Linked DNA regions of Homo sapiens: regions 1 and 2 are each linked to region 3. The links come from fine-mapping of genetic effects on gene expression. A gene starts in region 3. Each other region holds a variant in brackets. All regions are shown on one strand. Distances are from middle to middle. Region 1 has its middle 8.8 kb from the start of LINC02066. Region 2 overlaps LINC02066 (long intergenic non-protein coding RNA 2066). Region 3 holds the start of IGSF10 (immunoglobulin superfamily member 10).

Region 1 (10,978 bases), 82 kb after region 3:
CCATCCTTCAGTCTCCTGGAACCTCTCCTGTTTTCCATGGTTTCCCAGTAATTACCCACAGTGGTTCAGTAATTATAGACATACGTTCTTTCTGTTCCCCAAGATGTAGTTTAGCTAGGCCAAAAGATTTGAAATCCTCAGAGCAGCTAGGATCCCTCTCATGAGCCCTCCTGCTTCCTCAGTTTCAGATTCCTCTGACTATTACTCACTCCTCACTTTTCCTGGGTCTACGACTTGGCAGAGATCAAAATTGTGGGATTCTTAATAGTTGCCAAACTTCACGTTTAGTTAAGGGTCTTCAGAAGGACCTACTAATTGTCAGATGCAGAGTCAAAGTCTCATTCTGCGACTTCACTGATAAACATATTTGATATTCTTAGAGGTTTCTTAGAATTGTGATGGGTCACTCCTGGGACCACCATAACACCAGAAACACAAAGCCCATAGAAGTTCATTATTGCCCACTCATTATTGCTTAATATATTTCTTTAATTATTAACTAAAAGCTTAAAAAGGCTGTTGCCCTTTTTATAACGAGAAGGACCTGGATTTTTTGTGGGTCTGTGCTTGTTTCATTTGGTTTTTAATTCTCTCTCACTTAAATAAGGACATTATAATGGTTTAAATGGTTAAATACCTCACTTCACAGCCAAGTAATAGTAGAAGAAACGTAAGACCACAGCCTAAGTAGAATGAGAAATGTAAGTCTTCGGATTATTCATTGGAATATAAAAGTGAGAAAAAGGGTATCTAGTTCCAATATTTAAACAAACACAATCACCAAGACTTTGATGCTGTTTTTCCATTAACACTGCTGACATCAGACCCCGAGCAGAATTTCCATAAAGAAATTTAATTTAAAATGTCCAGGACACAATATTGCTTTAAGAACATTACTCTTTCAACCCCCAAGTCTAGCGCAGTGTCTGGCATGTAGTAGTCACAGAACAATGTTGAGTTGAATTTACAAGCCCCACATAAAGAATGTAAGTTAAATCTTGGACCCTTAAAACCATTATAATTGTTTCACAGGCAGCAAGGGCTCAGGGAAAAAGAAAAGGTTTTAGAACAAAACATGCATTGTGAGAACTGTTACTCCAGCAAACGAAAACACATCCCAATAACAATAATACTTCAGTTTCTGTGGGCATTTGAAGAGGCACGATAAAGAGCCAGCTTTTTTTCTTGCCTGTGTTTTTAAAAACACTGGAAGAGGAACAAAAATTTCTGGCAGATGGCGATCAAAATATCAGCTTCATTGCTGTTGGAAAGGGGCCTAGATTTTGGTAAGGCTAGACCTGCAAATACAGATCCCTAGAATTAGGGACTTACTTTAATCCTTGCTTTTTTCCAGCGGAGTCCACATGTTACACATGACTACAGAAGAGTCACAAGTCACAGCAGTCCAGACAAACGCTCTGCTTCCCACGTGGAGGCTTGCTCTGTAACCCGAGAGAAGACCAGATGCAGACGTGAACTTTCGCATAGCCGCTCTTAAGAGGAAGGGGAAGAGAGGAGCTAGCTATGACTGCCCTCTTCCTTCTTTTAAATTCATCAAATAGGCGAATTCACTCCACCTGAGTGTTTGAGTGTTAAGGGCGGAACAAGAAACTGGTGCTTAGAAAAACCAGAGGAGTGGAGCATTGTTTCTACTTAAGGGTCTTTTAACACATCTTGGCTTAAAATATGTTTACATATTCATCTTCTTCCCAAACTCAGGATGGCAAGCAGAGTACATATTTTCCCTCTTTTTACAGTTAAGAAATGGAGATGCAGAAAAAAATGTGTCATAGTCACTTGAAACTCATTGTATCAATATGAATCTGTAATCCGACCACCCCCACCTCCAACACCCAGCTGGTTGTTCTCTCAATAGATAGTGAAGAGTGATCCTTGATGATTATTCTTAGGCTGTAATCCTTTCACCCAGCATTATTTCAACAGCATCTATCTATCTATCTATCTATCTATCTATCTATCTATCTATCTATCTATCATCTATCTGTATCTATCATCTATCTATCTGTCTATCTATCATCTCTGTGTGTGTCTGTCATTCGTCTGTCTGTTCATCCATCCATTCATCTAAGAAACAAGAGGTGCAGGGAGGGAATTTGTAGTGAGAGGCTTCTGACAGAACTGGCCTTAGTCCGAGCCTAAGTAACCTAAATAAGTTTTTCATCCCCTTAGCTGGGCGTCAGTGGTGTCATTTTGTGGTGGGAAGTGAAAGAAGACTTTCTAAATCGATGAACAAATCAGAAGCCTATCCCTCAATTAATTGTCATAAAGAAATCTCACCCATCACAACCAAATAACATAATTTAAATTTTTTAATAGAAGTATGAAATAAACACAGAAAAGCGTATATATCATAAGTGTACAGCTCAGTTAATTTTCAAAAATTGAACATGTGTAGCCAACACTAGATCGAAAAACAGAACATTACCATTTCTTCTGATCTATATTATTCTCTTCTGGTCACCCTCACCCAAGGGTAAGTTTACCTGAATTTCTAAGATAATACATTAATTTTGCCTGCATTGTACTTTTTATGAATGGAGTAATACAGTATGTACTCTGGTGTCCAGCTTCTTTTGCTTAACATTATTTTTTTGAGGAGTATCCATATTATTGTGTATATTTGCAGATCATTTATTCTCATTAGTGTGTTGTACTGCAGTGTGTAACTAAACCACAGTGTAGTTATCCATTCTACTTTTGATAGCCTGTGAGAAGTTGACAGTTTAGAGCTATTATAAATAGTAGTGATGTGAACATTCTTGTTCGTACCTCTGGTGCACATATATCTATGTACTTCTGTTGACTCTATGCCTACAGTGGTATTGCTGGGTCAGAGGGTATGTATTTGTTTGGCTTTTGTGGATGTTAGCAGTTTTCCAAAGTGTTTACTAGTTTATACACCCACCAGCAGTGTACAAAAATTCCAGTTGCTTTACATCCTCACAAGCCTAGTCCCCCACGAAAATGCACACGAACCAATCCCTGCAATCTGTGAATATGATACCTTGCATGGCAAAAGGAACTTTCAGAGCCACAGTGGAGATCCACTAGTAATTTTGTTGCTCTCTGAGGATCTCCTCAGTTTTTCACTGTTGAACCCTGAACAACCATCTACATTTTAAGTGTGAAGGTTACAGAAGAAATTATTGGAACAACTGCAGAGGGGAGACATCAGAGGGAGTTCAGTTCCAGATAGTGGAAATCATGCTGAAGTTTGTATAGTGTGTATGGAACAAATGATTCCGTTTAAGGTTAAAAAAACAAACCTTAAAATACCCTCAAAACCTCAGTAGTTTAATTAAGTTCATTACATCTGATGTGATTAGCAGTAAGATTCATAAACTATCAGTTTCTCCTACATCAGTCATGTTTTTGACTGTCCACAGTTATCTAAAACATATTTTACAAACTTCATGGCAGAAAGTCAGATGTGTCTGTTGAAGTAGAATGACTTCAAGACAGTATATCTTTACATTATATGGGAGGCTAACAAAACAGTAAAATTTGTTATGATACAGAGCTGAGTCATGTCAAAAAAATCATATTTTAGAATTTGATGTCAGTGAGATTAGCTAGCACACTAAAGTTCTTTGTTTAATTTGCTAGGCCATAAATTCAGTTTTCTTATAGTCATATAGATGAGATTTAAACACATTACTGAGTAAACAAAGTACTTTTAGAGGTTTGCTCATGGTTGTATTTTAAAGTTGACACTATTCTTTTAGGAGGCTGATATTTCTAATTTTATATTGTCCTTTTTGATAAATTGGCTTCTCTCTCTCTGCATATGTTTTAGTTTTTTCTTTGTAGTATCTCTATTTTTTATTATTTCATCTTACTAATACCTCCTCATGTCTTATGAAATTCATCATCTTTTCCTCCTTCTCTCGAGGACATACAGAAGTACAATACATAAATACATATACATACATATGTGTGGATGAGTGGATAGATAGATGTATGTCTGGGGCCCAAGCTAGACCAATCAGCTGTGGAGAAAATGGGGGTCAAAGCAAGCTAAGCATGGCCACTTTCTCCCTTAAGAAAAGCAACTTTCCTTAGAAAGGATTGTGTATGCGGCAGGTAGCATGACCAATGTTCTTAACACATTCTTTGGCTTCATTTTAATCTCTTTTCCTGAGTTGTTCCTTAAATTACTGTTGCTTTCACACCCAACTCCCTTCTCCTCTCATTCACGCTTAAAAATTTCCCAGGTGATCTTATTTATTCAGTGGCTTTTACAGCACTTGCTTTATCTCCAGCCCAAATGACTTTCAGGTACTCCAGGTTCTGGCTATCACACAGGCACTAAACTCAAAACATTTCAAAATAAATCCATTATTTTATATATCCAGGCTGCAAATGCTTTTCTTCCTGTATATCTTATGTCAGAACCATAAATGCATATAAATACTCATTTTCTTTATATATAATATTGGACATAATATAAGACACATATAGTAATTTTTTACTGTATTTTCTCACTATAACGAAAATCTCCCTTACTTTAACATAAGTAGAATTCATTCATAAGGATATTTTAAAGTAAGACAATACACAGAAGTATATAGGGATAAGCAAGTCTTCCTCTCATTTCTGACCTCTGTATTCTAGTCCTCTTCCTCACAGGCATCGACTCTTCTCAACATCAGCTACATCCTTGCAGGGATACCCTTTGTATAAATATATATGCATGTGTATTTTTCTTAAAATTTATATTCTGCTGTGGATACATTTCTTTCCTTGTTTTTCCACTAACAGTATAACTTGAATACTTACTATAAAAACAAAATAAATGTTTTTAGTAAGAAATGTTTATAGTAAGAAATGTTTATAGTAAGAATTTACATAAGGAAAACTTCTTATAGTTTCTGATTTGGGTTCTTAAAACTAACTATACTGTAATCCTGTTAGATTACGTCCTTTCAAGGAGGGAATGCTTAAAGTTACTGTTGATGATTGTAATTTGTTTTATATACTTTTGTCTTGTTAAAATCACATGTTTTTATTAAAGGTATTTTTGTACTTTCCTCACCTGCTGTCTAGAGGCCACACAATTTTAGCTTTTTTTCTGACATTGCCACTGTATTTCAAAACAATGTGCTCATCTTTAAAAATGTGCTTTATCTTCACCAATTCTAGACATCGTCTATTGATATTTTTGTTCAAAAATGATTCAGCTCATTTATAAAATCTCTCCTACTAATTCCCCTAGTCAATTTTTCAATATAATTATATCAGAATTTTGGTTTAATTAAGGCTAAATTTTACATTATGA[A/G]TATTTGTAAGAATTCTCTCCGTAGTCAAGGAGACTAAGTCCATGATTATCATTTGGGTTTTCCTGCAGTAAATAAGTATTAGGTTCAGGGGTCTGGGTCCAGCCTATGCTGCCGTCCAAGGGGAGGAGTGGGTCGATGGGCAGAAAGATCACTCAGGGGGCCATAGGCAGGTGAAATGCAGTTTTATTCAGCAGCTTTTTCATCAGCAGCTTACCCACATTAGCTCTCTTACACTGTCCACCTTTATCTTGGATGTCTGCTCCAGCTCTGTGGCTTCTACTACCCCCACACCTGCAGCTGCACAGCTGGCTCTCCCTTGCCTTCAGGGTCAGCAGCTTAACTCTTTCTCTCTCTGGGCAAGAGCACGAGCAGTGTTGTGCCATGCCGTGCCATGCCAAGCTGTGTCCTGCCTCCCCTCTGTTCACCTGCAAGATGAACAGCTTTGCTTGCTCTCTCTCTTTCTCTGGGTACCAATGCCTGAACAAAAGCCATGACCAGTCGAGCTGAGCCAAGCCCCTGTGCACAGTGTCAGCAGGGCAATTACACCTTTTACAGACAATAGTGGCTCAGAGCCAAGTATGAACTTACACAAATAGGTTATATAACAAGTGGAGGTGTGCGTCTGCCTGCCAAACTTGCTGAGTCATGCAGGCCTGGATATCTGCCTTGGCCTATTCCTTGATCAAAGCATATCCATGTACCTTACAATAAGTATCTGTTTAGTTTTCTATGTAGCTATTGATAATTTCCCCCAACTCCCTACCCCTAAGTGCTCAAACAGATCTGTCAAATGTCTTTTCTTTTATTGAGACGGAGTTTTACTCTGTCACCCAGGCTGGAGTGCAGTGGCACAATCTTGGCTCACTGCAACCTCTGCCTCCCAGGTTCAAGCAATTCTCCTGCCTCAGCCTCCCAAGTAGCTGGGACTACAGGCACATGCCACCACGCCTGGCTAATTTTGTATTTTTAGTAGAGAAGGGGTTTCCCCATATTGCCCAGGCTGGTCTTGAACTCCTGACCTCAAGTGATCCACCTGCCTCAGCCTCCCAAAGTGCTGGGATTACAGGCATGAGCCACCACACCTGGCCTGTCAAATGTCTTTTAATATTTCCAGTGTACTCAAACACATCAGGACTGGGTTTGCCTAGGAGAACATTCTGCAGGGGCCCTCTGACTGGCTCTAATTGCTCCTGGTGGCTCTCCAGGCTGCTGCAACACAGCAGTCTTTCTGGGGTTTTCTCTGCTCTCACCTCCATAGGATTTCCTGTTTTCTCTACCTCACATCTTTCTTTTGGTATAGCAACCTCTAAAGCTTTTCAAGAAAGAATGCATGGAATGTTTGAAAATATATATCCAGCTTCCATGTTTGAATGACAGTTTGATGGCTTAAAAATTCTAAATTGGAGAGCATTTTCACTGAGAATTTTAAAGACACTGCTCTATATTTCATTCCCTACCCACCTACCCACCCTGTTTTAGTTTTGCTGCTGAAAGTCTAATGCTATTTGATTTCCAAATCCTCTGTTCAATGACCTGTTTTCTCTTTCTAAAAGTATTTAAGATTTTCTCTCTTTTTTTTTTTTTTCAATGCCCTGGGGTTTGAAATGCATTGTGATGTCCTTTGCTGTGTTTTATTTATTGTATTATGCATGCGATAGGCCCTTCAATCTGAAGATTTTTGTGTTTTGGTTTTGGAAATTGTCTTATTTTACTTCTATGATGATTCTTCTCTCCTTTGTTTTCTCTGTTTTCTACTCTGGAACTGTTATTAGTTTAGCTATTGGGTCTTCTATACTGATTCTCTAACTTTCTTAATTTTTAAATTTTCCATCTGTCTCTTGGTTTCTGAGACATTTTCACAACTTTATCTTTCATATCTGTTGAATTTTCTATTTTAGTTATTCTACATTTAAGTGTTTTAAAATTCTTACTTGGATCCTTCTTAATAGCCTTTTGTTATTGTTTCACAACTGTAATATATCCTTTAATCTTTTTGAGCATATTAGTTACATAATTTTGAAAGTTTTTTTATGCTTCTTGCATATTCTCTTTTTTTCTGGGCTTGATTTTCTATTATTGTGGGCCTGTTTTCACATTAGAGACTTTTCTCAAACACCTGGCAATGCTTGGCTCCCCACTTGTAGTTAAAAGGAGGCCCTGAGAAGCAAATGGAATCACTGAGTGCAGTTTGGCAGAATTCACTGTAGGGTAATAAGGCAGCAAGGTGCTCTTCTCATGTAGGAGATACTAAGAGATTTTTCTCTTGAGCTGCTCAGTTTCACAGTGAAGAATTCTATAATCCTCTGCCTTGCAGCTTTGGAGGATGAAGCAAGGCCTTTGCTCTGAGTGCTAAATAATAGGCTTTCTATCACTTCCATTGTTTTTGGTCTTATGGTTTAGCCCAATTTCTGTGGTACTTTTGACCATCAAGTCCTGAAGTTCTCTAAGTTTCCATAGGGAAAATTGGCTCAATTCAAGCTGCAATCCCTCTGCAGGTGTCTGCACTTTAGCATTCCTGCACTTTGCTTTGTCAAGAACCGGCCTTCCATCTGTTTGTTATTTATTTATATTTTCCAATTATTTATTGGCATTCCTCATCTGCTGTCATCTCCTCACCTTTCTCAGCTTTGTCCTTGAATTTGTACTTTAAAAATCATTTGTCAATTTGATAACATTTTTGGATGGAAAGAAAATAAACGTGGTGAATATTTGTTAATTGAAATTGTCATGAATCAGGAAGAAGCAAAAGGGTGCTGAAGGGTAACTGGTTAGGAATCTGTAGTGCAGGGGTTAACAAATTACTGCTCCCTATCCAAATGTTGCTCGCAGCAGATGAGCTTAGCCTGGTTTTTACATTTTTAAAGGGTTGTAAAACAAAACAAATCAAAACAAAACATTAGATTAGAGATCATATGTGGCCACAAAAAAAAAAAAAAGCCTAGCATAATTGTTACCTAGCTCTGTACAGAAAGATATTGCTGAACCCAGCTTTAGTGCAGTGGTTCTCAACCTGGGAGCATCAAAAACAGATCTATGACCAGGTCTCACTCTGGACCATTAAGCAAAAATCTCTGTTGGCAAGGCTCAGGGGGTGATATTAGCATGCAGCGAGACTATTATGAAAACCCTCTCCTACCAAAATACAGCATTATCTACACCACCAAGATACCACCACCATCCCACCAACAAGAGCAACTGATAAATTTCTATGCTTGTTATTTACTATTTATGTTTATTTACTTTTTGAGACAGGGTTTTGCTCTGTTGCCTTGGCTTCAGTGCAGTGGTGTAATTATGGCTCACCATAGCCTTGACCCTCAGGGCTCAAGCGATCCTCCCACCTCAGCCTCCTGGGTAGCTGGGAGTACAGGTGTCCACAACCATGCCTGGCTAATTTTTTTTTTTTTTTAATATTTAGTCGAGATAAAGCCTCAGTATGTCGCCCAGCCTGGTCTCAAACTCCTGAGCTCAAATCCCTCCTTGGCTTCCCAAAGTAAGCCATCATGCCTGGCGTATGTTTATTTTTGGCAACATTATATACACATAAATTGCTTGTACAAGCCTGATGATTAAAGTCAAAGTCCTCTGTGTCCCTCTTCCCCATTCTATAAGTATAGCCTCTTTACATTTTTTAAATTAATTCTTTTCTCCATATTTCTTTTTTTTGAGACGAAGTTTTTGCTCTTGTTGCCCAGGCTGAAGCGCAATGGTGCAATCTCGGCTCATTGCAACCTCCGCCTCCCGGGTTCAAGCAATTATCCTGCCTCAGCCTCCTGAGTAGCTGGTATTACAGGCAACTGCCACCACGCCCGGCTAATTTTTATATAATTAGTAGAGATGGGGTTTCACCATGTGGACCAGGCTGGTCTTGAACTTCTGACCTCCGGCGATCCACCCCCCCCTTGGCCTCCCAAAGTGCTGGGATTACAGGCGTGAACCACCGTGCCCGGCCTCTTTTCTCCATATTTCTAAATAATATGTTTATATTGCTTCTTCAGGATTTTTCAGTTTTAGACATTTTCTATTAACTTTCTACCATGAAAAATAAGGATTTAGTTCCCTTTCACAACCACACCGTCCCACACACATGCAAGCTTCCAAGATCCACTCCATCCTTTTTAATAGTTTTCATTAGAACAATATTCATTTTGTTAAATATGTTCATCAGTATGTAAATGCTTTTCACAGCTGAGCAATGCCATAGCCAGTGATTATGTTCTTGCACAATTATGTTCTTCCTGAAGTTAGTAATTAATCTTACTTTTGACTCCTCTCCTTAGTTTTCCATATATTATATAAATATATATATACACACACACACACACACACACACACACACGTTATTCAAAACTAAACTGTTGCCAATTGTCTAGGTCTTCTCTCAGTATAGACATCATGTATTCTATTAATATCATGTTTGTGAAACAGCTTCTCCTAGAGCCTGGACTGGAGGCTTACTGTACCTGGTGCATATTTGTCATTGGACTCTGGTTTTCCTCTTTCAGAGATGTTCTTTGCCTCTGGGTTGTATGGAGTACTCTGGTTTCTAGAGCCCAGATATTCTTCTTTCTTGGTTTAAGTCTTCATCTTGGAGCAAATCCATCAGTAACTTTATGAGAAAGAGTGCATGGGAGACAAATGCTCCTGATATTGCATGTCTGAAAATGTAAAGAATCCGCCGGCATGTTATTTACAGTTAGCTTGCAAATGGAATTCTAGGTTTAAATGTATTTTCCTTCATATTTTAATGGCATCAATCCCTCACTATACAACTTCCAGTTTTACTGTTTGAGCAACCTGAAGTCATTCTAGTTTTATATGTTTGTGGTGTGGAAGATTGTATTTCCAAAAATGGTTGCAAAATATCTTTGTCTCACATGCTTTTCTACAATGTGACCTTTCTACTCTCCCATTGAGATGTGTGTACCTTCCCTTTGAATCTGCATGGCCAGTAATTTGCTTATATCCAACACATTATAGTGGAAGTGATGTTGGGGTAATTTCGAGGCTAGTTTAAAAGAAGCAGTATGCCTTTTGCCTTGTTCATGGGGACACTTGTTTGCGGAACCCTAAGTGGCAATATAAGAAGTCTGACTACCCTAAACATTATGCTCTAAGGAAACCCATGGCAAATAGAGAGGCCTCATGGGGTTCCTCTGTCAACAGCCCCAGCTAAGGTTCAAGCTGACAGCCAGCATCAAATGCTAAATATATGAGTGAATGAGACTTCAGATGATTTAAGCCATCTGTCCGTCATCTCTAGTTGTCTTCCCAGCTGAAGTCACAGACATTGTGGAGAAGAGATAAGCCATTCCTACTGCGCTCTGCCTAAATTACTGACCCACAAAACCCAAGAGCATAATAAAATTGTTGTTTTAACCCACTAAGTGTTGGGAGAATTTGTTGCATGACACTAATGACTGGAACAGTATGTGACTTTTAAAAACATTTTTGAAAGCTCTTAGGATTTCATTTTTGTTTTTCAGTGTCCTGAAAGTTTATGATGGCTATTTCACTCATTGTAAGTCAACCCTTTCAATGTGAAAATATTCATATCTTTCAGTTCTTAGAAATTTTATCAAATTGTTTTGGCAGTGATAGTTTTTCCTTTTTTTAATTTAATTTTTATTTTTAGAGTTTCTCTTATTTAGAGGCCAGACCTCTTGGACTAATAATCT
Region 2 (10,405 bases), 170 kb after region 3:
TAACGATGTGATTTAAGGCAAATTTCTCTCACTGGAGTGCAGTGGTATGATCATGACTCCCTGAAGCCTCAAACTCTTGGGCTCAAGCAATCCTCCCTACTCAGCCTCTCAAGTAGATGGGACTTACAGGCACACCATCATGCCTGGCTAATTTTTTAAATTTATTTTTTGTAGAGGGTCTCACTGTGTTGCCTGGGCTAGTCTCAAACTCCTGGCCTCAAACTCCTGGCCTCAAGCTATCCTTCTGCCTTGGCTTCCCCAAATGCTGGGATTACAGGCATAAGCCATCACACCCAATCTAAGGTGAGTTTCTTAACCGATCTGAGCCTCATCATTTCTTCATCTGTAAAGCAAGCACAGTCTTTCCTAATGTGCATTGAGGTTACAGGTAATCAAGAGTGCATGCTAAGCACTTGGCATTTTGTCTGGGACAAGGTAGGTGATATTGTCATTATTAAGAAAGATCAGGAAGGGCACCCCACAAGCTTGAGGTCAGAATGCCTAGCAATTGGAATTACTCAACATCTGAGTTAAGGCTGGGCTCTAACACTAGTTAGCTGGGCACCAAGGAAAACTCAGCGTAGGATGGATATTGTGTGCTGATGAAATGCTACATGGGGTGGTGATATTTACTGCCCCAGGTTCGTCATGGTGTGGAGAAGGTAAGGTGTGATCCTAAATATGAAGCCCCTTTAAAAGGCAATTATCAGCCATACAAATCAGGAACACTAGCATATAGAGAGCAATTTGAAATTTGTATTTGGCAGGTGTGTCTTGGAGAATCTCTAGGGAAAATATGTCCTCTTAAAAACCTTAGAGGATCTGTGAAAAATGTACCTTGCTGCCCCATCTGAAGGCTTCCATACCTCCTCTTCTTTCCTCAAACCCTCAGATGGGACATGGATTGCTTCCTTCTGTCTCTTCATTACCGGGGATAGTATTAATTCTTTGGTGTTCTTTATTATCCTTATTTTTATTATTATGTGAGAAATTTATTAGTAAAATTTTCAGTAAGTAGGATTACAAGCTAGTCTACCTGTGGATAGAATTGCAGCATATATAATACAATGAGAGAGTAGGGAGGGGAGATAAGGAAGCAAGGAAGAGAGAAAGGGAGAGAGTGATTTGTTTAAATTTTTAAATTATTTTATTTTATTTTATTTTGAGACAAGATCTCGTGTCTCCCAGGCTGGAGTACAGTGCTGTAATCGGCTCACTGCAGCCTCGACCTGCTGAACTCTAGCAATCCTCCCACGTCAGCCTCCCTAGTAGCTGGTACTACAGGTACATGCCACCACTCCCGCTAATTTTTTGTTTTTTTTGTAGAGACAGGATCCCACTATGTTGCCCAGGCTGGTCTTGAACTCCTGGGCTCAAGCAGTCCTCCCGCCTTAGCCTTCCAAAGGTTGGCATCAGACACCACAATTCAAGAAAATGAAATAAATTAACAAAATTATTAGGCTAAACCGTGATTTTTTTTCAGACACTGAATTTAAGTTTCTAGGTGTGTGCATTAGTAAGATCTAAAAACATTTCTCTTTTATAGGAAAAGAATTGAAAACTTTGAGAAAAAGATAAAGTGCCCAAATCAAAGCATGCAGAGCTAACAAATGGTAGAGCCGGCAATTGAACATAGGTCTCTCCATAGGCAAAGCCTATGTATGCCCTTTCCAGGGCACCAGGCTGCCTCCCTTAGCCTTGGCACTTGACTTTGATACTGGATACTCTTTTTAAAGACGATGTTATGTAAGTATACAAGGGTTACTTGTTTATTGCTTTTTAATTCACTCTCTACCCAGTATTTAACTGAAACTCTGACTTTCAAGGAAGTGTTATCTGTTATTAACAGACGTCAGGGTATAACAAAAATAAATTATTTTTATTTAGTAGTTTAGGTAACTTCCTGCCTTCAACATTTAATGCTTTGTTCAAACTTCTATGTAGAGAAGAATCTAGTTCATAGATATTTTTCATAATGATCATTCAAAGAAGTGGTGTTCACAAATCGGTGGTTATCTCAATTAGCTACCATCTTCCTCCTTTATGAGCATTTCCCTTCTCCTTTCAGACAGAAATAATATCTCTCTCCTTGGTGCTCCAACAGCGCTCTGTGCCTCTTCAATGGCAAAGCTGCATTTGCTTTGTCTTCTTCCTTGGCGGCTATAGTTTTGATCTAGACTGTAAATTCCCCACTAGACCATAAGTTCCTGTATCCTTCATTTGTAATATCTTAACAATATTCCAAGTATTTATTAGCCTAATTAAATTTTATGTGCCGTATTTTTAAACCGTTTCAGAGGAATTAATTTTAACAATGACTGGGTTATTTTGGTCAGATAATTCGTGAATAATAAGGAACATTAAAGCACTAACTAGTCCTGGTAATGGAGAGGCAGAAGGAAAGAATTTGGTGCTGGACCTAATGGCTGGAAGAAAGGATGAGCTGTGGAAAGGTTTTAGAAAGGGCTGCATAGTACATTTTCAGGTTTTTATTTGCTAACTCTTTTTCAGCTATTAGGTTGGTGCAAAAGTAATCGCGGTTTTTGCCATTGAAAGTAATGGCAAAAACCGCGATTACTTTTCTGTTAACATAATATTACAAATATGAAAGTGTGGATAATCAAAATAGAGCTATAAACAATTTGATAGAAATTAATTTCTGAATCATACCTTCCTTCTCTGCTGCGGATACATAACAGTTGGTAGAATTTATTTCTGTGGGAAAACTTGTACCTATGTTCAGCCTGTGACATGAAAATCTCAGGTACTGCATCAGCAATGCATCATCATCTTTTTCTTTCTCCCATTTTTATTGCTTTTGTGATCCTGTCCTGAATTACTGGCAATGCCTCGAACAACTTTAAGTCTCTTGCCGTAACTTGGACTTACGTGCTACAGTTAATAAAAAAGTCTTTAAAGAGCATTAAGGTCTTAAATAGCAAAAGCATTTTGATATTTCAGGACTATTGCTAACCAGGGGAATCAAAGAACATATGGCAAAAAGCTGTGCTTTTTCACATTCTGAGTAGGACGGGGCAGGGGAAATTGTGAAGAAAATGAGATAGGCCTGAAGACGTCCTGTGATTCCCTCCCTCCTGGCAGCCCAAGTGGGCCCTGGAACTCCCAGTTACTCCCCAACCCCCACCCTCACAACAGCATCCTCCCCAATGTCTTTTGGTCTTA[G/A]AAATAGATCTGACAAATATTTCCACTCTGAGGTATCCATGTTAAGGTCATGATGTATAAACACGATGAGGGAGTGAAAAGTAAACAAGCAAAGCTACAGAAGTTTTAAACCAACAAATGAGCATCTAATTGTGGAATGTGGGGCACTAAGAAGCTGGTTGAGGGAGAATTTGGAGAGTGTCAGTTCTTCCTATAAAAGGTTACCCTAATCCTAGAGGATAATATTCTGATCTTCTCTGAAGAAAGTATACAACTTACAAGAAAATTCAGAGGGCATCAACTCCACCTGGAAGAAAATCCAGCTGTTTTTAAGTTCTGATGTTTTGTTTTGATTTATCATTTTTTCCTTGCCAGTGATTTATAGTTGTAGAATGTTTAGAATTGGGTTAATGGGTACAAAAATTCAGTTAGATAGAAGGAATACGTTCTAGTATTTAATAGTACAGAAGGGAAATTATAGTTAATAATAACTTATTTATATTTCAAAATAGCTAAAAGAGAAGAAGTGTAATGTTCCCAACACAAAGAAAAGATAAAAGATAAATGTTTGAGATGACAGATATCCAATTACCATGATTTAATCATTGCATGTTGTATACATGTATCAAAATATAACATGTAACTCCAAATACATACAAGTATGATATATCAATTAAAGAAATCCAAGAAAGGGGTGTCTCCATTTTTAGGACAGTTCAAACCAAAATGTTCTTCAGCTGAAGTTGTCTGCTGTGGTGGGGCTTGGGGAGAGACTAGACTGCAGGGAGGAATGAGCCAGTGGTGGAGGTGGGGGGATAGACAGGAAGCTATCACAGGAGTTCTCAGCTGGGAAGATGGAAGTCAGCACTAGGAAAAGTCACAGGAGGATCAAATTATTCTCTTCACCTATCTCTGGCTCCTCCAGCTGCCCCCTTCCATCAGCTGGTTTCCACAAATAACTGGCCCTCTAGAATCTTACTTAAAAAATGTTCTCAACAAAGGGTTCCTACTCCCACTCACATTACTTTGAAGAGATAAGCTGGAATGTTTTACAAACAACCAGCTGAACAGGTTGAAAGAGCAGATGTTAAGCTGAAATGTTGCAATGACTAGTTTTGGTTCTTGGAACACCAAACACTAGATGACATCAAGTGTGTATTTTTAGCCTTATTTATAATGTGACAAGTCACATTTCACTCTCTCCTCATTGTCAAAGGCTATTTCCAAAGGATTACGAAGGAAGATCTGACTTGCATTAAAGCTTCTTTGACTTTGAACACAGCACATGTTTTCCATAAGGAAATCAATAAAATCTGAGAGTAGAACTTGAATAATATATTTCATTTCTAATGCAGCACTCACCTAGATAATTTATAGTGTCTCATTTTAAACTTTGCAAAATCACTTGGATGGGTTCTTGTTCTTCTAGTTTTTTATAGTTCATTAATTCAACAACTATTTATTGTGCACTTGCCATATAGCATAGGGACACATATATTCATAAATTGTTGGAGATAAACAGATAGCTCTGATGAACTTCATACTTTGAAGGAGGAGACAGCCCCATGAAGAAACAATGAGAAATACAGTCTGATCATTAATATAAAGAGAGGTGTGAACAACATGTGAACCTGGCTTTTGAAAGGAGAGGCAGGAGGAGCCAGGGAAGGCTTCATGGAGAAATCTGGTTTTGAAAGACATAGAAATGAGATAAGTGAGCAAAAGAGGTTCCAGGTTGAAGGGCAATGTGTGCAAGCCTGTACCTCATATTCTAACATCACAGCATATGTACGACACTGTATCTAGCACAGTTGTACATTGTGTCATCAGTCTGTACAATATGCTTTTGTACTTGACTCTATAAATCATGAAGCTTGACAACAGTGGTGCAATTTTTTTGTTGTTATTGTTTTGTTTTTCTTTTTTCCTTGTGGTTAAGTTGGTGATCTCAAGCTTTAGCCTGTGAATGAATCAACCTGATTGATTAAACATGGGTGACCCGGGCCATATTCCCAAAGACATGATTCAGTTGATCTAGGTGGGGCCTGGGAACCTGTATAGTGTTTTTAAAAGCCCTCTAGTGATTTTAATTAAGAGCATCAGAAGATCATGCATTGAGAAACACTAGATTAGGGAGGATAGAAAGTAAGGAATTTCTGTTTCTTTTTTAGGTTTTTATTTGCAGAAGGAGAAAATGAGGAAGAGAAAGGGTTGGTAAACAGTGTAGGACAAAGGAAAACAAAAGTAGCTGAGAGAGGAATTGAGAGGTGTTGGCCAGTAGGAATCTAGGTATCAAGAAGATAAGCTGCTGATTGTCAGCGTTTGGGAGGGAGATTTGCACAGGAAGGTACACAGTGTGAGAAAATAGCAATAATACTATGTAATGTAAAAATCTTAACACAGAAATGGGCTGCAGCTATGCCAAGATAAAGCATCCTTTTACAAATATAGTAGAGAACTGTGACTGATGACAAAAATAAAAGTTGGATAGATTGTGCTGATAGTTTATTTGGATATTAAATAGAAGGTTGGCCTCAGAAAGTTTTTTGTTGTGTTCTGGCACCATCTCTGCCAATTGTGTTCTGGAAAATATCTCTTCGTGTTTATTTTCTCATCACAATGAAAAGAGAGCAATGATGTTACGGACAATGCCATGGCTCACTGGAACCTGTTTGTGTTGAAGCAACAGAGATTATCTTGATTTTGCAGTTTCCTAATATCATTTATTTAATTGCTGGTTACACCATTACTCGTGATGCTGCATTATTCATTGTGACCCCATGAATACTGGCTTCCAATGACACTCAAAGGTTATTATTGTGCCGAGTTAAGTGCCACATATGTACTTGTGATGACTACAAATGCAAGTTTTATGCAGAGTATTCAGAAAAAATGGAGAACAATAATTCATTTGCTATTCATGTTAAGTTTACAGACTGGAATGTTAGAGCATAAACTAGAGCAATGCAACAACCAGCCATGTTTTCTCTTTAACTTGTTAAATTGTAATGATGGATTCTGAGAATGTGATCCCTTTCTATGTGGCTCCCACCTGTGCCTTCCATTCACTGCCGCTCTTGGGGAGAAGATGTGAGAGCCCAAGGGCAGAGCAAAAAGAGCAGTCCCATTTGCACAAGAAATGACCATTTCTCATCTGTCATGGATTAAAACTGACCCAGGAGAGACCTCTATCATTGTACCAATCAGCCAAGAGAAGACAATGATGAGAAAGGTCCATTGGCTTTGCAGAGCAACAGATTCTCCAGAGCACTGCTGGATGCAGGGTATGGACCCTGAAGATAGGTGGAATGACTGCTTTGAGTGCCAGTGGGTGAGGGACACATAAGCTGAGAGATCACTGTTCCCACCATCCTTAGGTGCTATAGACAGTATGTGGCATCAGGGTTGAGATACAGATAGGCAAGAGCTGATGCATGGGACCACACATCTGGCTCAAACCCAAGTACCAGCAATGGTCCTCAGTAGCTTGGAGCCCAGAACTTATCTTTTCACTGGGGTAAGAGCCACCCAAGTTAGCCATTCTGATGGTCCCATCTCACATAATCCCATGAAAGAAATACTGCAAGAGTCAGCAGGAGTGATCCACTTGTCAGGCCACTGTCCTGGAACCTGCATCTGAACCATTCTCCTGGAGCCTATTAGCATGAGTTCTGATGCTCTTCAGGATCTTGTGCAGAGGAGAGGGTTGCAGAGCATTTGGAAGAGAAGAAATGGGGTTTAAGATCAGGACATCATGCCCAGACAGCATTGGTAGACCTGATTGAGTTCAGGCAACTGAGGGTACTTAGAAAATGCTGAGGAAGTCATACAAAAATACGAAGTCTCAAACAGGGGCCCTCCTTACCCAGATCTCAGGGCAGTACTGCTGTCTGGATTCATAATCACAATTCCAGTTATAAACTTTGTGATCTTGAAAAAGTTATTTAACTGAACCTCAGTTTCTTTATAGATAAAATGGGGGTTATGTCTTACAAAGTTGCAAAAATTATATGAGCTAATTTATAAAGTGTCCAGCATAGTAATGCTTAGTAAGTTTAGCTATTGCTAGCTACTCATACCTCAGCCAGGGACGTGGGTGGGGTCTGCCTGAGTTGTTTGGGTCTATAAACAACTTGTTGCATTTGGGCAAATTCTTCTATATAGAAAGTATTAGGTTGGTGCAAAAGTAATTGTGGTTTTTGCCATTAAAAGTAATGCCACTAAAAGTAACCTTATACTATTTGTTTCCGATTATAAAAATGATGTTTGTTTTAGGAAACTTGAAAACTATACAAAAACATTAACTCATTCAACTTATTGAACAAATATATATATATATGTATATATATTTTTTTCAGACAAAGTCTCGCTCTTGTTCCCCAGGCTGGAGTGCAATGGTGAGATCTCGGCTCACTGCAACCTCCGTCTCCCGGGTTCAAGCAATTCTCCTGCCTCAGCATCCTGAGTAGCTGGGATTACAGGCACCTGCCACCACACCCGGCTAATTTTTGTACTTTTAGTGAAGACGGGGTTTCACCATGTTGGCCAGCCTGGTCTCAAACTCCTGACCTCAGGTGATCTGGCCACCTCGGCCTCCCAAAGTGCTGGGTTTACAAGTGTGAGCCACCACACCCAGCCTCAACAAGTATTTTTTTGAGTACCTGCTATGTACTGTAGGACTGGTTTTAGACACTGATGATCCAGTAGTGAACAAAACCAATAAAGTCCCTGTCCTCTTGGAGGAGAGACATACAATAAATTATACACATATCTAATATAGTATATCATATATATATTTACACATATATGCATATACCTCTGTGTGTGTGTATATGTTTGTGTGTGTATATATGTGTGTGTGTGTGTGTGTGTATATATATATAACATAGGTGTTCATATGGTATGTCAGATGGTGATAAGTACAAACAGAAAAATAAGTCAGGGCATGGGGCATATGGAGTGCCAGAAGGTTTAGAGATAGGAGTTTTAAATATAGTGGCCAGAAGAGACCTCACAGAAAAGGTGACATTTGAACACGTTCTTGAAGGAAATAAGGGAATAAATCATGTGTCTTCATTCAGGCTGCTTTTTCAAAAATACTGTAAACGGAATGGCTTATAAACCAGAAAGATTTATTTCTCACAGTTCTGGAGGCTGAGAAGCCCATGATTATGGCACCAGCAGATTTGGTGTCTGGTGAAGACATGTTTCCTCACAGAGAGCACCTCTGGCTGTGTCCTCACATGGTGGAAGGGGAGGGCTAGTTTTGTGGGATCTCTTTTATAAGGGCACTAATTTCAGTCATGAGGGGTCTGCCCTCATAACCTAATCACCTCCCCAAAAACCCACCTTCTAATACTATCCATCACCCTGGGGGTTAGGATTTAAATGTATTAATTTTGGGGGGACATAAGTGTTCAATCTATAATGCTATGAGTATAACTGGAGGAAGAGCATTCCAGGCAGAAGAATGTAACACCAAGAGTTCTGAGGCAGGATCATGACTCACATATGTGAGGAACAGCATGGCAGCCAGTATGGCTAAAGCAGAGTGGTGATCAATAGAGTGATGAGTGATAGAAAGAAAAGGCAGTGAAGGAAAGCAGATAGTGTGGGGCCTTGTAGATCATTATAAAGACCATTGCTTTTATTCTAATTAACATGGGAAGTCATTGTTGGAGTAGATTGTCCTCCATGGACGTCTTACGCACCTTCATACTTCATTGCTAAGTATGCCAAGAATGCAAGTCCCTGAGCACTCTTTATCCAGACCATTTCTCCGAGTCGTGTTTGTAATGAGCAACCTTGAGGGATGCCTTCTTCCAGAACAAAGAGCAGGCTTGCTTAGTGCTTGCTATAAAATGATGCATTCCATGAACTCATTGTCCCTCTCTTATAATGTACCCCACTGCATATGCACATATTTATTTTGGCCCATTGCCTTGCTGTCAAGGGACCTGGAGAGTATGGAGAACTGATGTTTGCAGCTGATGCTCATGCTGCCTGCTGGGCTCTGAGTAACAAAATCCTTCATGTTGGACCTAGGAGTCTTTTTGTCTTTGCTAGCATCCCTGAAACACTAATAGGCTAATTTATTAACTTCGAAGTAGGGTAATATAAATCTCATACTCTTCACAGTTCTTGACAGCCATTGTAAAATTTTGATCAATAAAATGACATGATTTGCCTCATGTTTTAAAAGGGTCACTCTGGCAACTCTGTGGAGAATAGACCTAGAGGGAGATGGTGGAAACATGAAGACCAGCAAGGAAAGAACTACAATAATTCAGGTGAGAAATGGTGGTAGTTTAGATCAGGGTGGTTTTGTGATGTTGGTAAAAAATAGTCCCTTCTGGATGTAGTTAGTCAAACAGAATTTCTGACAAATTAGATATAATTTGTATAATTTGTGAACGAAAAAGAATAAAGATTGACTACAAGATTTGGTTCAAGAACTTGTATGAATTTTTTCTTAACTGAGATGAAAAAAAGGGGAAGGATTTTATTGGGAGAATGGTAGAAATTAAGCTGCTATTTCTTTACATGTTAAGTTTCAGTTGCATATCAAGCATTTAAATGAGTGTTGAGTTAGCAGTTCAGGTGGAGTTTAGAGTTCAGGGCAGAGGTCAAGCCATGAGATATAAAAGTGTAAGAAGAAAAAATACTTTCATAATCCCTATTTCTAGAGACAGACACTTAACTTGCTGATTTACTTCCTACCAGTCTTTTTATGTAGGTGTATTCTTTGAGCATGGGAATATTCAAAAAATGTATGACCTTAGGTAGAGGCAATGACATTTTATCTCTTAATTTGATTAAAAAGGCATTGCTGAAACTTGAGAATGATGGAGAGTCACTTTTTCATAGTAATAGACATGCAGAATTTTAAATGATCTGGCAGAGTGTCACCTGGAGTTGTGTTGCAGATGTTCTGCCACACAGATTTGGCTGTGTCTACAGGTGCCACTCTGAAGAAGTTGGATGACTTTTTAACTTGGACCAGACTCAGTGATTCAAAACAGTTTCTTGGCCACATCCTTTCCAATTGAAGCTGAAAATGGGCAGATGTGTAAACAACCCTGGACAAAGAGGTAGCATACTTTTTCTACCCTAACCAGCATGTTGACAACTTGTGCCATGTTCATTACCCTGTTGTGGGTTCTCAAGTAAATTCCTTTTAGTAGAATTCAAATCGTGATTGTAAAAATTCAATCTAGAAATTCTAAAACAGCAGTTATTCTGA
Region 3 (10,978 bases):
AGTTCAATCTCCAACTCAATGTTCCTCAACAGCCATTGAAAATTTGGTCGAGAGAATAAATATATGTAGAGAATTCTATAAAGGACATGCAATCCATCTATTCCTCCGAAGACATACATTCCAAATAGAGCCTGATTAACCAAATCAACAGAATCACATAGCTACATTATACTCTATTGCTCTCACCATGGTTATAACCTCCCTTACATAGCTCTGGTATATGTTAGAAGGCTCTATGAACACAGGTACTTCATCTTTTACAAGGATATTATTGACTTTATTTTATGGCACTGTATTTTATGAGGAGCTTTGTAAGACATTTCTTTCTGATTTAAAAATCATACATGGCTGTGCTTTTCCTGAACAGTTTAAGTTTTAATAGATGTCATGTATTGTTAGCGTCTTGAAAGCTTCAAGTCCTACTTATAGCAGACTTAAAGGTCTCTATGTATGCATTTCCTCATGTTCCCTTTATTCTTTTCTCTAGGCTTATTTTACCTTTTACTTTCTCACTTACTTTTGTGATCATTCTTGCATGATTTTATGCATTCTTGGGAGTCCTCTTAACTTTAAAAAATTGAACAATGTAGAACATGAATAAGTAAATAAAATGAAACTGAAAATAGTACATTGATTTATATAAAACTATTATCTGTCTAAGATAGTCATTACTTTTAGGAACCACATTCAATTCCCAGATAAACATGACTAGAAGTGTCCTTTTAGGATTAAATTTTGAAGGTTTATCGTCTCTGGGTATTGATTTTTTTTCTATTAGCTTGAGGTAGTAGAAAACTTGCCTCAGAGTTCTTATTATTCTAATTTATACACACAGTTCCACAGTTAAAAATCAGTTAACATTCTCCATTGACGTCTGCTTCTAATTTACAGAATGTTGATTTTCGTATTGTGTAGAGATAGGCAGCCTTTGAAGGTCTATCTCACAGGTCCCACCTTACCTCTTTAACCTGCCCCCTCTCTCCATCAGTCTCACCTGCAAGGCCTGCAAATCTGAGAAGGTCTTGTCAGGGATTGTGTGAATGCCATTGCTGTGAAGCATGAGTAACTCCAGTTTGGTCAGGCCAGAAAAATCTGTTTCCATCAATCTAACCAAGCTGTTGTATCTGAAATAAAAAATGACATTCTAGGCATAAGCTAAGTCTGTCAACTAAAGTTCAAATGTCATAACCAAAATAAACACAAGAAAACTCAATACCTCTCTTTATAACTGTACTCTATTGAGACAATCAAATGCTTCAAAAACTGAAATTCACCAGATGCCACAGAAGGTCGGCTCTCTACCCAGTTCTTGCCATTTCAGTTACAATCACCCCCCTCATATTCTGGGAACTTGTCACATTTCTTATCATTTTCAAACTTTTATATATATGCTGTTCCCTCAGGTTGGAATGCCCTTGACCTCACCTTTTTCTATTTGTGAACACTTAATATCTAGCCCATTCTTTCATGACACTATCTCCTCACCACTCCCCCAGGTGGAATTCGTCAGCAGTGGTTAAGAAGCCTGGGCTCTGGAGGCCAGGCTTGGGCGTCTCGTTTGGGTATGATTACGAGCTCAGGCTCAACAGAGTAGTGGTACAACCCTGGGTAAAATCAGCAGGCTTTCTGTGCCTCAGTTTCCTCATCTATAAAATGTAAATAATAGAACTCACTCCAAAGGGGTTATGAGGATTAAATGGATGCAGTGCTTAACCCAATGCCAGCACCTACTGAGCACAACCTTAATGTTAGCTCTTAATATTAGTGACTGTCTCTAAAACACTTTGTATGCTCTATTAGTTTTTATTAATTGTACTGACCGTACATTTGTCTGGTCTTTTTAACGATCAATACACATCCTAGAAGTGAATAGTATATCTTACCATTGTATCCCCAGTGCATAGTACATGCTCACTAATGTCAAATAAACGATGCTAAGTCCAACATGTGTATTCAGACACACACAGACTTTTTTTTCATGAACGTTTAAAATACAGTCATATTTTTAAAAATTTAATTAGGCATCCATTTTAAATAAGTTTGTATGGAAAGAAACCAAAGGGCCTATAAAAAGGATACATATATATATATATGTATGTATGTGTGTGTGTGTGTGTATTATATAGGCAGACACTTCCAGTTACCCTGTCATCTCTTATGATGAATGATCATAACCCCAATAGTTAACAGAAACTATATCATTTTCCAGCAAAAATGTAGCCAGAAAGAAGCTTTTTACCGTCATGAGTCTCCCAACCTACCAAGAGGGACTTCAAATTCTAGAAGAACTTTCTCCTAATAAAAGTTTACCAGGAAAAGTTTTCTTATTGCCCCCAACAAACAAAATTCTCATGAGCTCATTTCAGAAAAGAAATATTGTTAAAACAATTGAGATTCATCTCCCAAAGTCATAGATGTTTGAGGGACAAGTCACTGCTGCGACTGATCCCTCTTTGAGAAGAGGAAACATGAGGTCTCACACACCCTAAATTGATGCGTTCCACATTGGGCGGGATGCTGTCTGGGATGGAAGTCAGGTACCGAAATGTGCAGTGTACCTCCGTAGGCATATAACAGGCACAGCGGCGAGGACAGGCCTTGCCCCCAGGGGTGGCGACCAGGCAGATCACAGCAAAGGAGACCAGCAAGCAGGTGATTCCTCTGCCTTTTACCTTCATCCTGAAAAAACATCATACCTCAGAGTTATAAAGAGTGGTGGAGCAAAGTCCCAGGACCACCACACACTCACTCTGGGAATCTGGGAGACCTTCTTTAAGGGTCGTAAGTGGTCAATTCCATTCCTACCCTTTGTGGTCATATGCACTCTTTACAAAACTATAGTGTGTGCTGCTGGCCTCACACTGCGCTTTATGATCAAGTGGGATATTTACTGTTGTGAAAATTTCTTCACAGCTTCTCACTTCTTTATGAAAACCAGCAATCCCTATTACTCAGGCATTCATTAAAAGGGAAACTGGAAACCATAAGAAAGATTGTGACAACTAAAATATATAGAATTTAGTTTCCTTTATATACATTAATTCTTTTAGAGTAACTTTCAAGAAACTGATTATAACAGTAATATCTGTGCATAATAAAACATTTGGAAACTGTAATTAAGCAGTAAAAAGGAAAAAAATTACTCAATCTCACCACTTATATAATCCTTAAACATGTTGTTGTATTCCTTTCCAGCCTTTTTCATCTATTGTGTGTATATGTATAGGTGTACATACATTTACGTGTATATGTGTACATGTGATCAAACTCAATTTTGTAACACATTTTATCATTTCATATATAATGTTTTTTCATTTTATTAAACCTTCTTCAGAAACATTTTTTAAAGGTTGTAATAATCCACTGGAAGGGAGAATAAATCTCTTTCTAACCGGTTTTCAAGTCCCTGCCAAAAAAAAAGACACATTGAACACTTCACTGCCAAGTAATGACCATAAGCAACAGCGACTGACCAGCTGAGAGGGCTTGAGCCATGCTGACCCTGTGCAGGCATGATGCTGTCTGCTTTTGCTCAGCTTCGGACATCTCTCTGCCTTTTTCCTTGGTCCCTCCTCCAGCTCATGGCTGCCACAGGAGGTGGGGAGCATAACCAGGGAAGAAATATGCTCAGCTTGTCAGAAAAAAAAAAATGGTATCTGTTACCCATATGTGGGGCAAGCCCAGGAATTCAAACCTAATTCTCTCCTGAAATGCAGGATTGAAATAAACTCTTTATTGTGCTTTTCCAAGCAAAATGACCTTCATAATTTGTAATAAATCCCACCGTTCTGTGGAACAGCATGATGTTGGATTCCACCAGCAACCACCCTTTAGCTACAAACTACACTGAGAAATAACACTGGGGCTGAACTGCTTGGATTTTCATACAGATAAAAAGATGATGGATGTATTATTATAATTTAGTCCAAATTAAAATTTAAGATAGGATTAATCATATGACCACTTTTGCCATCGTAACCACCTGGTTACAATAATTTTAAATAAGCTTTGTATGATTGGAGACAGCATTTCCACCTTATCATTAGATAAACAAAGGAAGGAACAGCAGGATGAAGGTAATTCTCTCGTTCAGCTTAAATAAAAGTTCTGGGTATGCCCACGTTCAAATTATTTAAAAGAGGATCAATAGCATAAGACAACACATGAATAAGGGATTCTCACAAACGTAAGGCTGAAAATGTACATAATGAAATAGGAATTGGCAATACCTGAGCTCTTCTTTCAGGTCCTGAGTCCTCTTGTGACATAGGCAGAGACAGAAAATCTTCCCAGGAAATGGAAAATTGTGTCCAAACCTGAGGGAGGAAAAGTTCTCTGCTCCAAAGTGAGCAAAAAGCCTTATTCTTTTTGGCTTACAGCCAGGAGTAATGCTCTTCAGGGAGACCTGGAGCCGCTTCCACAGCTTCAAAGTTCTATAACTCATAACCACATTAACCCAGAAGCGTTCTTTTATTATGATGCTTGCTGTTGCAGAAACAAAAGGCTAAGTGGAGGTTTTTAAATTTCCTTTCTCCTCCCTCAGTAGTGTACTTAATACTCCTTAAAGTTATCACTTGAATATTAACTACTACTAATCACTCCATTTTGCTCCAAAGTCCCAAGAGCTTCTCCTCAAATTGTCTTTTTTGGACAAATCTGTCACAGATGTCTCCATCTATTGATTGTCTTTCCTCAGTGTGTGTTTTTTTTTTTTGCCTGGCACCAGTCACCGAAGAATTGTCGTGTGCTTTCATGCCCCCACCTTCTCCGGGTGCGTCTTCCCTCCCCCACCCTCAGCCCTCCCCGCCCCAGCGCCCGCTTCTGCAGCCACGGTACTCGCTCCATTCCCACGCCAAGCCCCAGCCGGCGTGGGGTTCCAGCCCTTTCCGGGGAAGGATTGGCCGAGGCGCTCACCTGTTTGCCCTGGTGACCAATGGGCTCGAGCTGCCCGGGCTAGGTCCCGGGCTCGGTCCCGGGCTCAGCTGCTGGGGTCGTGCGGAGCTGGTCCGGAGCTCTGGGAGGGAAGGAAGGAAGGCGGAGCGAGGGCGGGGGATGAGCCCGACTTCTGTGTCTGGGGACGCGGCCGGGGCTCAGCAGCACAAGGATGAGAAACGACCACCGGGCCCCTCTTTATGTTTACGAGCGTGTGGGAAGCTAATTCGCCGTGGCTTCACTCTTTAAATTCCCAGGGCTTTCTCCTAGCAAGTTGGCAGGTCCTGGCTGGGTGGCAGAGCAGTTTCAGTGGCCGCCCGTTCATTTCCTCCTTGACCTCTTCCACCTGTTGACAGGTGGGCCTTTTGGTTTAAGGGTTTACGTAAATCGCCGCAGGCTGTCCTTGGTCCTGTGGCTCCCAAAGTTCTATTTGAAGGCTAAGTTAGCGTTAATGACCTGTGATACCTGCAGTGTCAATGTTTTATTTAAACCCCTCTTTTAAAAATAAGTAAATTATATTGCGTATATTTAAGGTATACAACATGTTATGGGCTATATACAGATAGTAAAATGGTTACTATAGTGAAACAACATATCCATCATCTCACATAGTTACCCCATTTTTGTTTTTGTGACACGAGCAGCTAAAATCTACTCTTTTAGCAAGAATCCCAAATACCATACAATTTTATTAACTATAGTCCTCTTGCACATTAGATCTATATAAATGTATGCTACTGTGTATTCTCTGATCTACATTTTTCCATTTCCTTTCTCCAACCCCTATAACCACTATTTAATTCTCTATCTCTGTATAATCGACCTTTTAGAAAAAGATTTCACATATATAAGTGAGATCATACACTATTTTTCTTTTGGTTTCTGGCTTATTTCACTTGGCATAATGTCCTCCAGGTTCATCCATGTGTGACAAATGGCAATATTTCCCTTTTGTTTTTTAACTGCCAAACAATATTACATCGTATATAGATGTCTCAGAGGAATTCTTTTAAATCATTATCACAGAACCGGATTTAAATACTACTATTTCTGCTTGGATTACATTCTCCTTTCTCATCTCCAACCCTACCATCTGGAGGCAGAGATGCCTCCAGAATCACCTCTACCAACTTGCCCACATGTAATATCTCCTGCAATTCTTGGTGGGGCTCCCAATACTCATAAACACTGAGTTAACATAACTAAAATGACCTTGTTTCCTTCCACGTAGTTACATAGCACTTAAGCTTTTGATGACAATTTGCAATGAATGTTTTAGGGCAGTGGATCTCAAGATAGGGTCACGGGTCCAGCATCAGCATTACTTTGGACTTCGTTAAGATCAAAAATTTGCGGGATCCATCCCAGACCCACTGATTCAGAAACTGTACGAAGGAGGCTTAGGAGTCCATGTGTTAACAAGCCTTCCATATGATTCTGATGCAGCTACAATGTGAGAATTGCTGGTTTAGTGAAATAACTTCTGAAAAATGTTTTACAAATACCAACTCATTTCAGCCTCACCATAGCACCAAAAAGCCTAAAAGGAAAGTATTTATGTTATTCCCATTTTACAAGTAAGGTACATGAAGGAAAGTGACAGAACTCCAGGCCATGTGGCTTGTGAGTAGAAAAGCCGTTAATTCAAACTCAGGCAGTCTTGCCCTATGGTCTGAACGTTTAACCATAAAGTTGTGGCTGCCTCACTTAGCTAAACATGGATAATGTGCCATATCCCATGCCGAGCATTCATGTGATTTATGGTTAGTAATAAGTCAGTTACCAAAGTAGAATTATAGAATCAGAGACTCAGAGTTAGAAGTAACCCTAGAAGCATGTATATGAACATGGTCTTTAGCTCTGCAGAGCTGACAAGATTCTTTTAAATTAAAAATTCACGTGATGTCCAAACTTGGATGCTTGCTTTGGAAATGTGGCATATTTGTCGGGTTTTGGCAGCCACAGTTTATCTTTCTCCCAAAGCTCCTTGGTGACCAACCTCATGGCTTCGTATTCTTTAGTCAATTTCTAACCCAGGTCTGGACTTCCAGACCTCAACTAGGATGAACCACAGAAAGATGACAGCAACATGTTAAACTTATTTTCCTAGGCTTGTTACCTGGGGTCATTTTCTTGCTATCAATTTCAAAGTGAACTCCTGATAGGAATGTTTGCTTCTCTTAAGAATTTTTATGAGATAAATCTCTACAATTGCTTTATGTCAGAGCTCTTCTCTGACGTATTTTCTACTTTTCATGTCATCTTCCAGAATTATTAGAAACCTGAGTCATATTGGCACCAATTCTAGTTCCATTTGCTCCACTTAATAACAATTCTAATATTTGTAATTACTTTTATAGTTAGAGTATATATGTGTCAAAGCCTTTATATGTATTGCTTAATTCTCAGAAATATTCTGATGAGTAAGTGCTAAAATTATACCAGTTTTTCAGATGAGATTGCTGAGGATAAAGAATGCTAAATGATTCAGAGCCAAAATACAATACTGAATTAATTTTAAAATTGTAAAACCAATGCTTTTAAGCCTTACATTTTCTGGTTTTTTTTTTTTTTTTTTTTTTTTTTTTTTTTTTTTTTCTGAGACGGAGTTTTGCTCTTGTTGCCCAGGCTGGAGTGCAATGGCGCAATCTCGGCTCACCACAACCTCCACTTTCTGGGTTCAAGCAATTCTCCTGCCTCAGCCTCCTGAGTAGCTGGGATTACAGGCACATGCCACCATGGCTGGGCGCAGTGGCTCACACCTGTAATCCCAGCATTTTGGGAGGCCAAGGCGGGAGGATCACCTGAGGTCAGGAATTTGAGACCAGCCTGGTCAACATGGTGAAACCCCGTCTCTACAAAAATACAAAAAAAGCCTTATATTTTCTATCTTCTTCCTGCTTCTATTTATAAAATTTGGAGAGTCCACAGCATATCAAAGAAAAGTTTCACCACTCTTTTTTCTAACCATGCTTAATAATGCAATATGTTTCTATAGATTCATATGGTTTACAAATCACTTTCACCTTTGAACATGGCCTCATTTAATAAGAAATATATGAAATTCAATGATAATGACTTTATTTTGTAATTGTAACTTTATTTTGCAGAAGTTAATTGAGTGTATAATTTGCCAAGATCTCAGAGCTGAGCATAGCGACTCTGAGTTAATTGTCAATCTGAACTCCTAAACCTGTGTTTCCTGGACTACGGTAATTTACCTACGCTTTAAGGATGGTTTGACATTTTAATTACCTCTCACTATAGTTTTACCTAATGATTTTCTTTAAATCCTCCCCCTCTTTTTGTTACTCTTTTCTTAAACAGTATTGTTGGTAAATTCTCAGGCTTTGTATTTTTTCTAGTAAACACGACAATAAATATACATCTTCTTCACCTTTTATATCACCCCTGAGAATTACATTTCCCCTCATCTCTAGGTCTTTGACATTATTTGCTGTCTTTTCTAGTAATTACTACTTCTTACTCCTCATCCTTAATTTATCATCCATACCATCCTTTACATCACCCTCCTAATCAGAGTATTTATTTAACACCAATCAACCAAGCGCAAGCAGTTACAAGTCATAGATCACCTGACAATCAGAACAAGCTATGAATTTTAAAACTGACTTATATATGTGTCAACAGATAACCAAATGCCAAAATTGTTACATATCTTTTAATCAGGCACAATCATTACCACCTCCCAGCTCCACAATTTTCATATTATTCAATTAACCAAACAGTCAAGACCTCCACTGAGTGATTCCAATAGCAGTGAAGTAGACTGACATCTTAGCCCTTCCTTTTTTGAAGTTACAGACTAGCACGGTAAGTGATAAGTGCCATGAAGAGACATAATGCAGGAAAAGGAGGTAGAAAGAAAATCAGTATCATCTTTCTTCCAATACAGTTGCAACTCAACCAACTAAAGTCAAACTACATGACTTGAAGACTTTATATATAGTATTCCAGATCTCTAACCTTTCAGAGCTTTCAGAACACCATGTATGGGTACAGTTTTGGAAGATGTGGAGAAAAATTTGAAGCAAATGCATGGTCCTCTTATAAGTCCATGGACTCTGGATTATAGGAAATAGAAAAACTACCTAGGAGGCAATTATAATAGTCCAGCCTTAAGACAATGAATTAAAGTGGTGGTTGTGAGAATAAATAAAGATTTTAGATCTGGAGGAACAAGAGTTAAGATTTTACTTAGGGAATAAAAGAGAGGATGGATGAATCTCACATTTTTGTTAGTGACATCCAAGGATCCTAGGAAAGCCAGGGCTGAAGTAGATAAAAGTTAGAAACCTGATATAGATGCAAACCTGAGAGAAGACTAAGGCAGAAGGAGCACAAGAATGACCATTGTTGTTGTCAAGAGTTTAGAAATAGGTGCCTGAAGAGCAGCTCTGCTGACTTTAGTTTTGTACTCTGGTCGCTGTAAATGCTCTGTGTTGCTTTTATGATAAGTATTGTATCAAAAGCCATTGGTTGAGGTTTGCAGAACTCACCATGATTTCTTAAGCCTGGGTAGGAGATGCACCTAAGAGATTTGAGAACTCTTCTAGTTTCTTCTTCTTTTTAATGAAAAGACATTATTATTACTTTACTATATAACATATTAGTGAATACGGCAGCTTGTATTTTCTCAAATGGGAAATGGCAAATGAGGCACATTTTTCTGATTTCTCCAGGAAGCTCAGTATCATCTGTCTTTTGGAGGATTTAATTTCTTATGACATCTGTCATACTATCCAGAGGATACCAATGGTGCTGTTACAGCAAACTAAATATGGCCTGAGAGGGACGTTGTACTTCTATATTTGAGTCCTTGTGGATGAACTGTAATCTAATTTAATCGGTAGACAAGATTGAAAACCTAACTTAGGAATATGCACCTGTAACAATTGCTGAGTCTTGGCCAATCCTAGCAGTCATACTTCAACCACTCATGCACTGCTGAGTGTCAAACTGTGTTCAAATAAGGCAAATGCCAACCTGTAACCAATCCAGCTGTTTCTGTACCTCACTTCTGATTTCTGTATATCATTTTCCTTTTTTTGTCTATAAATTTTTTCTGACCACGAGGCATCCCTGTAGTCTCTCTGAATCTGCGGTATTTCTGGAGGATGTCCAATTCATGAATCGTTTTTTTCCTTGTTCAATTAAACTTTGTCAAATTTAATTTGTCTGAAGTTTTAACAGATCTGGCATCAGAAGTGGGATTCAAAGTAAAACTCTGGCGACCCCCAGAAATACCAGGTGACCAGGCGAGGTACCCGCTGAGCCCATTGTGCTCACTGTTCTCTTGATTGTAAATGGAGGTCATGGGTGAGTTTTCTCTCAGATTCTGAACTCCAGTAACTTGTGTTTTGGGGTCTCTGAGTTTACTTGAGCAATACTTAGACTGCACCGAGTCTAAGATCAAATTGGATTTGATAATTAACTGGATTGAATTCAATTAGAGGCCTTGGACCTTGGGTAGGTACTTTATTTTTAATAATGGAATTATCTCAGTCCAAGGAGTCTGGGACTCCACCTTCTGGAACTCCAGCTAATTTTATGTATAAAAATTATGGGCCCAGCACGTGTTTTTGTTTTGTTTTGTTTTGTTTTGTTTGTTCGAGATAGAGTCTCACTCTGTCTCCCAGGCTGGAGTGCAATGGCACAATCTCAGCTCATTGCAGCCTCCACCTCCTGGGTTCAAATGATTCTCCTGCCTTCGCCTCCCGAGTAGCTGGGACTACAGGCACCTGCCACCATGCCCAGCTAATTTTTGTATTTTTAGTAGAGACAGGGTTTCACCATGTTGGTCAGGCTAGTCTTGAACTCCTGACCTCAGGTGATCCACCCGCCTCGGCCTCCTAAAGGGCTAGGATTACAGTAGTGAGCCATTATGCCTGGCTCAACGTGTGCATTTTTAGAAAAATGGGTTAACCCCACTAAAGAGAACTTAAGATGGTCGAAATGAGGAAGTTATAATTTGGAAAAAATTGTGTATTTGTGAGGCATATTGGAAAAAGACTATGTCCCACAG

The links.
Region 1: its variant is fine-mapped to the expression of IGSF10 in pituitary (GTEx, PIP above 0.99).
Region 2: its variant is fine-mapped to the expression of IGSF10 in skeletal muscle (GTEx, PIP above 0.99).

The regions. Positions count from the first base shown.
Region 1 is chr3:151,537,821-151,548,798 of GRCh38, forward strand. It overlaps a transcript of IGSF10 not described here. Among named protein-coding and RNA genes, the nearest start is that of LINC02066, 8.8 kb to the right of the region's middle. The variant A/G (reference allele first, on the strand shown) is at 5,300.
Region 2 is chr3:151,627,020-151,637,424 of GRCh38, forward strand. LINC02066 (long intergenic non-protein coding RNA 2066) reads left to right here. Exons shown (of 5, transcript NR_183765.1): 2 at 9,365-9,452; 3 at 10,123-10,253. Among named protein-coding and RNA genes, the nearest start is that of MIR5186, 66 kb to the left of the region's middle. The variant G/A (reference allele first, on the strand shown) is at 3,184.
Region 3 is chr3:151,456,032-151,467,009 of GRCh38, forward strand. IGSF10 (immunoglobulin superfamily member 10) reads right to left here and starts at 5,030. Exons shown (of 8, transcript NM_178822.5): 1 at 4,915-5,030; 2 at 4,230-4,316; 3 at 2,485-2,679; 4 at 995-1,124. The coding sequence starts at 2,678.